Regions from separate parts of the Homo sapiens genome. Here region 2 is linked to region 1. The links come from fine-mapping of genetic effects on gene expression. Tissue or cell type: whole blood. Region 1 holds a variant in brackets; the other region holds the start of a gene. All regions are shown on one strand. Distances are between the middles of the regions.

The links. PIP is the estimated chance that this variant, and not a neighbour inherited with it, causes the effect.
Region 2: it holds the start of USP31, and the variant in region 1 is fine-mapped to the expression of USP31 in whole blood (GTEx, PIP above 0.99).

The regions. Positions count from the first base shown.
Region 1 is chr16:23,186,816-23,189,315 of GRCh38, forward strand. All of the region lies in intron 2 of SCNN1G (sodium channel epithelial 1 subunit gamma), which reads left to right. Among named protein-coding and RNA genes, the nearest start is that of SCNN1G, 5.3 kb to the left of the region's middle. The variant G/A (reference allele first, on the strand shown) is at 1,108.
Region 2 is chr16:23,148,478-23,150,977 of GRCh38, forward strand. It overlaps USP31 (ubiquitin specific peptidase 31), which reads right to left and starts at 975. Exons shown (of 16, transcript NM_020718.4): 1 at 161-975. The coding sequence starts at 793. RefSeq lists silencers at 116-345, 476-575, 676-725, 876-975 and an enhancer at 1,156-1,375.

The DNA.
Region 1 (2,500 bases):
TTTTTCCTTTTTTGAGATGGAGTTTCGCTCTTGTTGCCCAGGCTGGGATGCAGTGGTGCGATCTCGGCTCACTGCAACCTCCACCTCCCAGGTTCTAACAATCCTCCCGAGTAGCTGGGACTACAGGGGTGTACCACAGCGCCAGGCTAATTTTTTTGTGTTTTTAGTAGAGACAGGATTTCACCATGCTTGGCCAGGCTGGTCTTGAACTCCTGACCTCAGGTGATCCACCCGCCTTGGCCTCCCAAAGTGCTTGGATTACAGGTGTGAGCCACAGTACCTGGCCTTTTCTTTTTTTTTTTTTTTTTTTGGAGGCAGGGTCTCACTCTGTCACCCAAGCTGGAGTGCAGTGGTGCAATCATAGCTCCCTGCAGCCCCGACCTCCTGGGCTCAAGCAATTCTCCTACTGCAGCCTCCTGAGTAGCTGGGACTATAGGCACATGCCACCACATCCAGCTAAAATTTTTTATTTTTTAAGAGATGGGGTCTCGCTATGTTACTCAGGCTGGTCTCAAACTCCTGAGCTCAAGTGGTGCTGCCACTTTGGTCTCTCAAAGTGCTGAGATTACAGGAGTGAACCACCACACCCACTCCATCAATGACTTCTGAGGATGGGCTAGCCCAGAGAGAGCAGAAAGAGGAAGCTGCAGGATTTGTTTCACTTAGAAGAGGCCTGGAACGAACTAACCCCCTCTGCACACTCCCCATATCAAGCCCAAATTAGCCAACCCCCATCTGCATCTGCACCCCTGGCTCTCCGAGCTCACATGTTCACTCTGCCTGCAGCATAAGTGAGCTCAAGGCTGACTCAGAAGTGACACCCAGGTGACTTCTGTAAGCACCTCAGCTGCCCCAAACCCTCATCTGAATAAACCCAGCCCCATTAATTGAGCTCATCGGGCCCTGGGTGTGATCAGCCCTTGGGACTGCCCTATCATCCTCGGCAGGACCTGTTCTAAATGGGTCATCAGAGTCCTTCTCAGGATTATGGAAAACTGGTCCGTGAGGCAGGTCAGAATCAGGCAGACTTTGTCAGAGCAGGGGTGGGGAGAAGGGAAGAAGAACAGGGGAGAAAGATTATCAAACGAAACTAACTTGTCCAGAATC[G/A]TCAGTGAGTTGGTGCAAAGCTCAAAATCAAGATCAAGTCTAAGACTCTCTCTCCGCCCTCCATGTCTTCCTCTTCTTTCTTTCTCCCTCCCTCCTTCTCTCTCTCTCTCTGGTCCTCCTTCCTTCTTTCCATCCATTATTTGTTCCATAATAATTTACTCAGCATCTATAAACTGTCATGCACTGTACTAGGTTCTGGGATAGAGAACTGAACAACCCAAACACAGTATTTGCCCTAGTGGAGCTTATACTGTAGTGGAGGAATAAAGTCTTAATAAATATAATAACACTAATATAACTAACAATAGAGGCACAGTGGCTCATGCCTGAAATCTCAGCACTTTCAGAAGCCAAGGCATGAGGATTGCTTGAGGCCAGGAATTCGAGACCAGCCTGGGCAACAGAGCAAGGCCCCCTCTCTAAAAATATTTTATTTTAAATTAGCCAGGTGTGATGGCACACATTCATAGTCCCAGCAACTTAGGAGGCTGAAGTGGGAGGATTGCTTGAGCCCAGGAGTTCTAGGCTGCAGGGAACCATGATTGCACCACTGCACTCCAGCCTGGGCAACAGAGTGAGACCCTGTCTCTAAAATAATAACAATAATAGAGGGCATTTAATTATCTATATGTATGTCTGTGTGTGTTTATTATATTTAATAAACTCATTGAACCTTCCCAGCAAATCCCGTTTTACAAAGGAGAATGCTAAAACACAGAGAGGCTAAGACATTTGTCCAAGGTCAGGTAGCCAGTACCAGGATGGGGAACCTAAACTCAGGTAATTTGGCTAAACCCAGGGGTTTCTATTCTCAATTGCTATGCTCTGCTGCCTATGCCTAGAGCAAGTGGGAGAAAGGAGAGAGGAGAGAGTTAAGAGGAGGCTGGAACCATTTGATTTGTGAAAATTAAAAGATGGTATATTGTGCTTCACGCAGGCAACTCCTTTATAACTATTTTGTGTTCTTGGGGGTCATCGAGGTAACAGTTATACCCTCCTTCCCCCCAGCACAGATTTGAGGACAATCAGTGGGCAGAGGCAGAGTGAGCTGGGTGGAGAAGGAGCCTGCCCATTAGGTAGACTCCTGGTTGGCAGTTATTTACTTGTCCTCACTGTGGCTGGTTTATGGGAGGCACCTGACAGTCACCACTACAGAAATGCTGGTTGGGACAAACTTGTCAACACACCCTGAGGGCAAGCAGACAGTGGTGGCAGAGGTGAAGCCACAGGAAGTCACACATGGGTCACCCATGAGCCTTTCCCCATTTGCCAGAGCCAGGGGTCACTTTGGATGGGTCAAGTCATGAAAGGCGTGGTCTCCTCTGCCAAGGAGTTGGGAAAGGTGGGCATGAGGCTGACACGTGTTGATGGAAAACAGCCTGGAGGAGCACCA
Region 2 (2,500 bases), 38 kb before region 1:
AATGAATCTCCTTAAAATCACTGGTCGACTGCCCAGACCACTCGGAGCAACCAATGCAGAAGCCTGCCGGGCCAAGAGGAACCGAGGGAAGGAAGACCTGGGCGGGCAGGTGCCCCAGGGGCTCGGGGTGCAGTGGGGGCGCGGCGGCGCGCGGGCTCACCTTGAAGTCGCGGCTGTGCTGCGGGGTGTACTCCAGGGTCCAGAGGGCCCGCACCAGGTGCGCCAGCTGCTCAGTGACCTCGCCCTGGCCCTGCGCGCCGCGGCCCGCAGGCTGCTCCGGGTCAGGCGAGGGCTCGGGCCGCCCCGCCCGGTACTGGCCCAGCGCCAGGTACTCGGCGAAGAGCTCGGTGTTGCTGAGGCACTGCAGCGTGGCGTTCATGAAGCACGTGTTGCCGTGGTTGCGGAGCCCCGCCACGCCGGGCACCGGCTCGGCGGCGCAAGCGGGCGGCGCGGGAGAGGCGGGCGGCGGCGGGCACGGCGGCGGCGTGGGCGCGGCGGCCGGCCCGGGCGGGAAGCAGCTGCGGAGGCCGCCGCGGTCTGGGGCGGCGCCCTCAGAGCTAAGGTGCGAGAGCGTGGACAGCGTCTTGAGAACGCGGCTCATGAAGCTGCCCACCGAGCGTGCAGAGGAGGGCGAGGAGGGCGAGGAAGGCGCGGCCGGCCCGGACGCCCCGGGGCCCCCCGCGCCGCCGCCGCCAGCGCGGCCGCTCCGAAACAGCCGCTTGCTGAAGGAGCGCTTCTCCTTCCCGCTCGCCGCCGCCGGCGGCCCGGACCCAGGCGCCGTTACCTTGGACATGGCGGCGGCCGCAGACACTCATCACCGCGCCCGCCCGCCCGGCCCGCGGCCCCGCCACGGCCGCCGCCGCATCCCGCAGCGCCGCGCCTCACCGGGCCCGGGGGCTCGACGCCCCACACACCTCAAAGCGCAGCCGAGCCAGCGAGCGAGCGGCGGCCGGCGGGGCCAGCGGGCGCGCGCGCGGTCCGCCCAGCTGAGCCGCTCACGTGACGTGCCTCCCGGCGCCGCCCGCCCGGCGCTGAAGCCGCCTCGGCCGCCATGTTCACTGTGGGACGGTAGCTGCCTCTCCAGCCGGACGCGATGCCTGGAGGCTGCGGGCGCGGTCCTGCTGCGTGAAGCCCGAGGGAGGCCATGTCTAGTGTGGGCGCCGTCCCGGCTTGGAGGAAAAGGCTGGGCTCCCGTTGGATGGTGGATCCCCGGGGTGGGTCTCTGTCTTTGCTGGTCAGATGGCAGAGGCGGGAACGTGCAGGAATCAGGATGCTGTCAGTTACCAGACCGTGCAAGAGCTGGTGGACATGGCCCTGACAGGTCCTGGGCAAGTCAGCCCTGTCTGGCTCCCAAGGGACGTTGCAGATACCTACCCTCTGGGTGCCAGCGGAGCGCAGTCACAGACCCTGGCACGTCCCAGCGGGCTTTTCTTCCTGGCTGCACCTTGGAGTCCCAGCGAAACGCTGTTATCATAACTACTTTCCTTTTCATTCCAGCCTTTAAAACTCCTCCGGGCTCTCCCATCATTCATCATTCCATTCATTCATTCACTCACTCATTCATTCAGCAGTTACTGGGGATATTGCAAAGAATTAAACCTATTAAATTAGAATCAAATGTCATATCCCCAGCGGATTAAATTAGCACGGTTTCTACCTGCCCTCTTGCAGCTTACATTCCTACTGGGTGTTTACAATAGCTGTTGTGTTCCACACATTATGCCAAGCATGCAATATTTTCTTTAATCTTTAATTCACCGTCTTTGAGATTGGTACAGTTCTTATCTGATTCAAACCCAAGTTTTATTTACAACCCCTATACTTGACCTCTAAACCAAAGGTCACGAATCCACAAATATCACAGGTCACAAACCCACAAATGAGTGAAGAATCCTGGTGTTTGAATCATCATATTGACTTTCAAGTGACTTGGGTCTCAGTGTTGGGGGAAATATAAGGAATGATGGGGACTATAGCAGACTTCAAATTAACATCTTTCTAAAGAGGTGGCTGCCACTCAGCTCCAGCCAGTTGTTCCCATGTGAGAACAGGAGCTCAGCGTTACCAGATCATCTGATGTTTTAAGAGAAGGCAGAAATCCTATTTTTAAACGTTGGTTCCATTAAAAAAAAAATAGTGCAGGGAGCAAAAAATAGTACATCTTTGGGATGCCTTTAGTCCAAAATCAACTAGTATATGACCTCCTCTCTATAGGCTCCCCTCTGCTAAAAGGGCTAGTCTGAGTCCTGAGGCAGAAGAGAGAAATCAGAGAAGGGAGAGCCCTTCCTCCTTTTTAAAACATGAAGGCCACCTTACACCACGTTTCAAAGTAAATGGTTTTTACCTTTGACCTCCCTCCCCAATGTAAGTAGGGCTCTATGATGACATCTCCAGGGTGCTCTGCACTGTCCCTAATCGGCTCCACTCTCCTCTTAGTCAAAATTCTTATCTGGACACCAGGAAGAAAGCCATCTGATTATTCACACTAAAATGTGAATGC